Linked DNA regions of Homo sapiens: all the other regions are linked to region 2. Evidence: fine-mapped expression QTL. A gene starts in region 2. Each other region holds a variant in brackets. All regions are shown on one strand. Distances are between the middles of the regions.

The links. PIP is the estimated chance that this variant, and not a neighbour inherited with it, causes the effect.
Region 1: its variant is the best candidate, but not a certain one, in a credible set for the expression of BSCL2 in monocytes (Fairfax 2014, PIP 0.64).
Region 3: its variant is the best candidate, but not a certain one, in a credible set for the expression of BSCL2 in whole blood (TOPMed, PIP 0.51).

The regions. Positions count from the first base shown.
Region 1 is chr11:62,774,460-62,777,301 of GRCh38, forward strand. It overlaps TAF6L (TATA-box binding protein associated factor 6 like), which reads left to right. Exons shown (of 11, transcript NM_006473.4): 2 at 1,312-1,471; 3 at 1,925-2,011. The coding sequence starts at 1,325. It also overlaps a transcript of TMEM223 not described here. Among named protein-coding and RNA genes, the nearest start is that of TAF6L, 4.5 kb to the left of the region's middle. The variant C/T (reference allele first, on the strand shown) is at 1,467.
Region 2 is chr11:62,706,052-62,708,889 of GRCh38, forward strand. It overlaps BSCL2 (BSCL2 lipid droplet biogenesis associated, seipin), which reads right to left and starts at 1,373. Exons shown (of 11, transcript NM_001122955.4): 1 at 1,058-1,373. The coding sequence starts at 1,144. It overlaps GNG3 (G protein subunit gamma 3), which reads left to right and starts at 1,625. Exons shown (of 3, transcript NM_012202.5): 1 at 1,625-1,864; 2 at 2,244-2,343; 3 at 2,627-2,838. The coding sequence starts at 2,245. The coding sequence ends at 2,755. It overlaps HNRNPUL2-BSCL2 (HNRNPUL2-BSCL2 readthrough (NMD candidate)), which reads right to left. Exons shown (of 24, transcript NR_037946.1): 14 at 1,058-1,273. RefSeq lists a silencer at 77-416 and enhancers at 84-757, 2,077-2,838.
Region 3 is chr11:62,633,214-62,635,713 of GRCh38, forward strand. GANAB (glucosidase II alpha subunit) reads right to left here. Exons shown (of 24, transcript NM_198334.3): 5 at 1,608-1,787; 6 at 232-301; 7 at 1-58. Among named protein-coding and RNA genes, the nearest start is that of GANAB, 12 kb to the right of the region's middle. The variant A/G (reference allele first, on the strand shown) is at 1,031.

The DNA of each region.
Region 1 (2,842 bases), 68 kb after region 2:
GGGACCTGGACGTCACTGGTGACCCATTGATCCCCTGCCAGAGGAGTAGTGGGGGCAATGCCTGGGTGGGTCATCCTGGATCTGGGCCTTCCTGTCTGAGGTGTGGATGCATCACTTTGGCGCACGGGAGCCTACCTTCTGGTGCTGTGCGTTGTTGGAGTGAGTCATCAGCTGCTGTTTTTGTCGGTTTCTTATTGTGCTATACCCTGTGAACAAAACAGGTTCCAGCATTTAGGCACTGCAGCCAAACTGGGGAAGACCAAACACATAGGCAGAAAGCCCAGCTACTATCCAGCCTGGCCAACATGGCGAAATCTTGTTTCTACTAAAAATACAAAAATTAGCTGGGCGTGGTGGCACGTGCCTGTAATCCCAGCTACTTGGGAGGCTGAGGCAGGAGAGTTGGGGGCAACAAGAACAAAACTCCGTCTCAAAAAAAAAAAAAAAAAAATTTAGCCATCCGGGCGTGGTGGCAGGTACCTGTAATCCCAGCTACTCAGGAGGCTGAGGCAGATAATTACTTGAACCCGGGAGGCGGAGGTTGCAGTGAGCTGAGATCGCGCTGCTACACTCCAGCCTGGCGCCAGAGCGAGACTCTGTCTCAAAAAAAAAAAAAAAAAAGAAAAGACTGGGTAATGTATAAAGGAAAGAGGTTTAACTGACTCAATGCTGGGGAGGCCTCAGGAAACTTACAGTCATGGTGGAAGAGGAAGCAAACATGTCTTTCTTCATGTGGCTGCAGCTAGGAGAAGTGCCGAGCAAAAGGGGGAAAAGCTCTTTATAAAACCATTAGATCTTTTGAGAACTCACTATCAGGAGAACAGCATGGGGGAAAATGTCCCCTTGATTCAGTTATCTCCACCTGGTCCCGCTCTTGACACGTGGGGATTATTAAAATTCAAGGTGAGATTTGTGCGGGGACACAGCCAAATCATATCAGTCATCTCATTTTCACAGCAACCCTGTGAGCTAGAGAGGGCAGGAATTATTGTGCCTGTTTTACAGTTTAGGACACAAGGGCTCAGACTGATGAAGGCCTTGGCCAAATTCACATAGAAGGTGACAGGGCAGGAATGGGACCTAGTTCTGTGAACCCCAACACTTTGGACTTTGTCTAGCTTCACCGTTCTTGACCCACTGGCCAGTCTGTTTCCTTCTCTGAGCCTCACTTTCCTCATCTGGGTACTCAGAGCTCCTTGTTTAGAAACTCCAGAGCACGAGCAGCAAGGCTGGTGTGGAGGGTGTTGGATCACACTCCTGGGCTCTCCGGGAGGCTGGGCAGCTTTTCCAGTCTTCATTCTCCACTCCCAGCTCCACTGGGGCCATGTCAGAGCGAGAAGAGCGGCGGTTTGTGGAGATCCCTCGGGAGTCTGTCCGGCTCATGGCGGAGAGCACGGGCCTGGAGCTGAGCGATGAGGTGGCGGCGCTGCTCGCAGAGGACGTGTGCTATCGTCTGAGAGAGGCCA[C/T]GCAGGTACACTCCCCTCACCCCCTGATACCTCCAACTTTCCTTGTTTCTGCCTTTTTACTAACCTCCACCCTCGCTGATTTATTCAAGTGTACACTGGGTGCCTGCTCCATACAACAGAGACAGTCCATGCCTTTACAGAACTCTACTTGTAGCTGTCTGGGCTTCCAGCAGACAAAGCGCTTGCCAGGCATCTTCCCATGTGCTCCTCACAACAGCCCTGTTGGGCAGGCAGAGCGGGTAGATACTCACATTCTGCATGTGAGAAACTGAGGTGTTGACAGAAGATGTGACACCCGGGGGGTGTTTTTGTACAGGAGCAGAGACGGAATCTAGGCTTCTGATCCCTAAGCGTGGTCTCCTGTTTGCCTTCTCTCCAGTCTGGCCCACTTCATTTGGGGTTTCCCATGCCCCCTGCTTCACATCCTTTGACTCTGGCTTTTGTTCCCTCCCTCCCAGAATAGCTCTCAGTTCATGAAGCACACCAAACGCCGGAAGCTGACGGTTGAGGACTTCAACAGGGCCCTCAGATGGAGCAGCGTGGAGGTGAGTGGGGTGCAGGCTACAGAGGGCTCAGGTGGCATGAGGCCACTTCCATGTCCAGTTCAGGGCTGGCGATGTGGTGAGACATTAAGACCAAACGCTGCCGGGCATGGTGGCTCATGCCTGTAATCCCAGCACTTTGGGAGGCCGAGGTGGGCGGATCACTTGAGGCCAGGACTTCAAGACCAGCCTGGCCAACATGGCGAAACCCCTTCTTTACTAAAAATACAGAAATTAGCTGGGCCTGGTGGTACATGTCTGTAATCCCATCTAGTCAGGAAACTGAGGCATGAGAATCGCTTGAACCTAGCAGGCAGAGGTTGTGGTGAGCTGAGATTGCACTCCAGCCTGGGCAACAGAGCAAGACCCTGTCTCAAAAAAAGAAAAAAAAAAAAAAAAGGCCGGGCACAGGAGCTTACACCTAAAATCCCAGCACTTTGGGAGGTGGAGGCCGGCGGATCACGAAGTCAGGAGTTTGAGACCAACCTGCCCAACATGGTGAAACCTCGTTTCTACTAAAAATACAAAAATTAGCTGGCCGTGGCGGTGGGCGCCTGTAACCCCAGTTACTCAGGATGCTGAGGCAGGAGAATCGCGTGAACCTGGGAGGCAGAGGTTGCAGTGAGCTGAGATTGTGCCACTGTACTCCAGCCTGGGTGACAGAGCAGGACTCCATGTCAAAAAAAAAAACAACCAAAAAAACACAAAAATTAGCTGGGTGTGGTGGTGGGCACCTGTAATCCCAACTACCTGGGAGGCTGAGGCAGGAGAATCGCTTGAAACTGGAAGGCGTAGGTTGCAGTGAGCCGAGATCACGCCACTGCATTCCAGCCT
Region 2 (2,838 bases):
ATTGCTTCCCGAGTTTCTCCTCTCCGCCTCGAGCAGAGCTCGCTCACCGACACGGCTACACCCCACGCCCGGCGGAGCGCCCTGCAGCCAACCGCCGCTTCCCGCCAGTCCCCTCCAGCTCGGGGGTGGGCAAAGCGCCCGGAGCCCCTACCTAATCGTGCAACCATGGAAACCAGCCCGCCGGCTGCCACAGGGCTGCCGACTCACCAGCCTCGCGCGCTGCCAGGGCAACCGTGAGACGGGACTTCCGGCTCCCGGGGAAGTCCCGCCCCTCTCCGCCGGCCGCTTTTGTAGCCGTGGGAGGCGGGGCTTCAGCCCAGGGCGGGGTCCAGCACGGCGGGGCGGGGCGGGACGGGGCGGAGCCTTCCCGAGCTGCGAGGTCGCTGTCTCCTTGCGCTCGCCACTGGCTCTCTCTGCGGCAGGTTTCCCTCCGGTTACCGTGACCAAAGGGGAAAGACGCCTGCCTCCCTGCAGGCCCCAAGATGTGCCCCAGGGGATGCGCTGACTGCAGCCTCCGCTCGGCTCTCCCTTGAGACTGCAATCACAGCCCTCCGTGCACACCTTCACCACAGGCCATTTCACCCGCGAAGCGGCCGAGTGAGGCGGTCATCCAGCTGGCGCTGATTTTTATCGCCCACAGCTCCTAGGACCTGTAGGCATCTAAGGCGGGGGCATTCGCCTAGAGCATGTTGCAGTTTGCGGCAACCTGGGCCTCTTGCGTTGTTGCGCAGGCAGATTAGTGCCCTGTTCCCAGCGTGGTAGCATTGTGGACCTCCTCTGACCCTAACTGGATACACTCTCCCTCAGAGTCCCCACAGCACATTATCTAGACTAGCTTTTGGCAGTCTTCTATTTTGTAGACGTCTAATCACCCCAGATAAAGTCCTTCAGAGGCAAGGCCAGTGTTGTGTACATCTTTGCACACTGCTGCGGGCGTGGGAAGTAATCTATTCAAAATGAATGAAATTCTTAAAACCAATCCATCCCCCCGCCCCCTTCACGCCAGCCCACCTATTTCCAGTATATTTCTGCTGACTGTCCCCACAAGGGCCCCTACCTCCTCTTTGTCCGGTCCTTTGATCTGGTCTCCGCACACCTCTTTTTCCCCAGCTTCCTCCTTTTGGTCTACCTTTTCTGTAGACATCTTCCTGACGAGCCTCTGTTGACTCTGGATCTTCCACTGAGTCACTTGTGGCTAAAACGTGAAGTGGCGATCCAGACGCTGATACCTGTGGCGCATCACATTTTCCTGGATATGGAAAATGGAGGGTCCCTGGGAGAGAAACGAAGATTCAGGTGCTAAGTGCTGTGTCAGAGTAGAGGGAGGAAAGGAGGAGGGGGGCGACTGCCCAGCTGATGTCAGATTTTCAAATGAGCAGGGTCCCCCGCAGCCAGTACAGACTCCACTGCAGGGGCCGTCATAGGCCCAGACCACGCCATTTGAGAGGGGGAGTCGGCCTTGGCCTCAGCTCTGTTGGGGAGGTCTCTAGCCCAGAGTCAGGATGCCTGCAATGGGGGAGGGGCAGGCAGTGAACTAGCGACAGTGGGGGTGTGCGCAGGGATGCAGGCAGCTAGGCTCCCCCACTGGCCAGGCAGTTGGTATGCTCCAGGATCTGAGCAGCTCCTTCTAGCATCCTTCATCCTTCAGGTACCAGCCATCCAGACAGTGCTTGAGCTGCAGAAACTGAGACCAGACCTCTGGCCTGGCCCTCCCCAGGGGCCTCCTTTCGTATAGTCACTGCTTCTGCATCAGATACTTTCAGCTGCAACTCCCTACTGGGTGGGGCACCCATTTCAGGCAGAAGGTTTTGGTACCCTCCACTGACCCTACACCCAGGGCTGCTACTGCCGCTTGTGGCTTCAGGTAAGTAATGGCCTGTTTTTCTCCTGTTGGGGCTCACTGGAGCAGACAGGGGTGATGTGCCCTCCTCATCAGGGTTGGTTGAGGTCTTCAGAGCTGGGAACACACATGGTTTGAAGGGCTGAAAAGCCTTAAATCATTTGTGTAAGGTTTAATGATCTGTGGCCCAGGCCATGAGGGAGTTTGGGGAGCACCTCATCCCACCCTATTTTTTTCCATGAGGAATACAGGGATGAGACAGTCCACTGGAGGAGGAGGAGGAGGATAGGAGGGGAACAAAATATTGGGGTATGACCACAGCCTTGTAAAGGTTGGTGTGGAGTGAGCATGGAGGGGGGCCTCCAGCTGAGACTGTGCTCTGAGAGGTCCCTCTTTTTTCCAGGATGAAAGGTGAGACCCCGGTGAACAGCACTATGAGTATTGGGCAAGCACGCAAGATGGTGGAACAGCTTAAGATTGAAGCCAGCTTGTGTCGGATAAAGGTAGGTGGGACCCTGGCTGGCTCCCATTAGTTGGCCAGGCTGTGCTGTGCTGCAGGTTCCCAAAGCTCAAGATAAGAGATGCGTTCTTTCCTTCACTCCCTGAGGTCAGGGGAGGAGTCTGGGGCTCTGTAGAGAGAGCTGTCCCCAGGCCTCTGGGGGGGATGAGGGAGAAGACAAGTCGTAAGGAGCCCTGGAGATGGCAAAAGAGAACCCATTTGGGGAGGGAGGCTGCAGTCCCCTTCAGAGGTCCTGGCTAACAATACCCTTCCTGGCTGTGTCCCAGGTGTCCAAGGCAGCAGCAGACCTGATGACTTACTGTGATGCCCACGCCTGTGAGGATCCCCTCATCACCCCTGTGCCCACTTCGGAGAACCCCTTCCGGGAGAAGAAGTTCTTCTGTGCTCTCCTCTGAGCTCCCCTGTCCCTTCTCACAACTCCTCCCTTTTCCCTCTCCTGGGCCCTTCCTTAGGTCAGTAATTGTTGTGAGCCCCTTAG
Region 3 (2,500 bases), 73 kb before region 2:
ATGTCTCCTCCCAGGCTCCTGGCTCATCTTTCTCTGCCTTCCCCTGAGTCTCCTCTGGCTGTTAAGAAGAAAAGAGGACCACTCTCCAATCATACCAGTTCTCTCTTTCCCCGCTCCCATCAACTAAATCCCATCCCTGATGGGGAGACTAAGTTCAAGTTTCTCATGGGCCTCTCCCCTCCACCCTCCCAGCCAGCCCTATCCTCCAACCACCCACCCGCTCCAACTTGCCTTGTCGCCATCCCTGGGTGTTTCCTCAGGCTGGGCCCCATCGCCCTCAGCTGGGTCTTTTGATCCTTGCCTGGAAGGTAGGAGAGCTGTCTGCTCCAATCCAGAGGGGGCAGGGACGAGGGGCTAGTGGAAGGAGGGGTTGGGGAATAGAGAGCCAAGGGTCCAAAGGAACGAAGGCATTGGAGGAAGGGACTAAATGTTAAAGCTTGGAGAGGGAACCCACAATGAGCAGATAAGTTTGCAAAGGATGGGGAGAGAAATGAGAAAGGAAAATGAGGAATAAGTGCCACCAGGAGGCACAGGCCTGAACACCAGCCTCTGTCAACATCCCAGAAGAGAAAGGCAGAATGATTCAGGGGCCTGGGTTATGAATGCCAATCCTGGCTCTGTTGCCTCTACTGAGAGATTCTGGCCCCAAGTGCTCTCCCTGGGCCTCAGCCTCCTGGCCTGACACAATGGCTTTGCAAAGGCATGTGGGTCATACTATACCAAGCCTCTACAGACATACATAGGGACTTCAAGAGATTCTGCCAAAAAATGCTTTCAAGGGCAAGTAGCTCTGCCCAGAACCTCAGGTGCCCCTCAGCTGAGAGTCAGGAACCCCAGCAATAGGCAGCATCTCTCCATCCCCTGGCAAAGCAATAAGCTCCCTACATTCCCGAAGGACCTGACTTTCAGTATCTCACCTTCCTTCTTCTGGGGGCTCCCAGCCAGGGTAACAGGTAACAGGACCAGACATCACACAGCAGGGGAAAGTGGGGTGAGTGAAAGGCTGGAAGGGTCTGGGGCACCTCCCCCC[A/G]AAGGCTAGAGTGAGGAATGGGTAAGGGCAGAGGAACAGATACAGTACCGGTGGCCATGGATTTACCTAGAGAAAAGGTTCTTGATCTTATCCCATATGCTACCAAGCGTGAGATTAACCTTATCCGAGAAACTGGGGCAGGAGGAGATGGGTAGGGAAGGGGAAAAAGAGGCACAAAACCAACACAAAAACAGAAACATAAAAGTGAGTTTCAGTCGACAAACTTCCAGAGATGGGGGGAAAAAGAAACCAAAAAAAATAAATAAATAAAAACGAAGAAAATAAATCTGGGAAATGTGATGATGTGAGAAGGGGAAGAAGGAGACACAGACCCAGGCAGGCCTCCCAGAGATGCCCAGGGTACAGCTCAGGGACAAAAGTGACTGCCTCCTGGTCTGTACAGGAAATGGAAAAAACCGCACCCGGGTCTGGTTCCTACCCTCCCTGACAGAGAGCTTCTCCCAGCCCCCAGGCCCTACCTGGCTGTCCCACCACCGTCTCCTCCCCGTGCCAGACCTCACAACACCCCTATGCTCTTTCACACTAGGTTCCCTGCAGTCCCAACCCCTGTACTCACGAGACCCTAGGGGCCCTCTGATGCTCAAACTCCAAGAGTCCTCGGGCATTGACACTAAGCAAAAGACTTCGGTCCTCTAGTAGGTCAAGGCGGAATGGCCGTGCTGTCAAGATGATCTTGTAGGGTCCCTCAGCCATGGTTAACTCCACACTGTTCTCATCACGACCAGAGACAGAAAGCCTGGGAAACATATCAAAAGAAATATAAGGAAGTACAAAGGGCCAAGAGGAGTAATGACACTTTAGAAGACCGGGGGAAATCTACCTGTTAAGAGAAATAGGCAGTGTGGTAACAGAGCAGGGATAGACAAGTTAATAAACAGAACCAAAGGGCCCAGAAACAGACCCAAGCATATTTATTACTTTTTTCTTTTTTTTTTTTGAGACGGAGTTTCACTCTTGTTGCCCAGGCTGGAGTGCAATGGCGCAATCTCGGCTCACCGCAACCTCCGTCTCCCAGGTTCAAGCAATTCTCCTGCCTCAGCCTCCAAATAGCTGGGATTACAGGCATGCACCACCACACCTGGCTAATTTTGTATTTTTAGTAGAGATGGGGTTTCTTCATGTTGAGGCTGGTCTCAAACTCCTGACCTCAGGTGATCCACCCACCTCGGCCTCGCAAAGTGCTGGGATTACAGGCGTGAGCCACTGTGCCTGGCCACTTATTACTTTTTTAAATGTACTAAATACTAAGAGGTGGCATAGCAGATGAGAGAGGAAAGGAGAACTATTCAAAAATGGAACTGAAAAAACATTTTCCATATAGGAAAAAAAATGATTTTCCAAATATGAAGAAAAATGATGTACTTCTTTTTTTTTTTTTTGAGATGGAGTCTCGCTCTGTTGCCCAGGCTGGAGCACAGTGGCACAACCTTGGCTCACTGCAACCTCCAC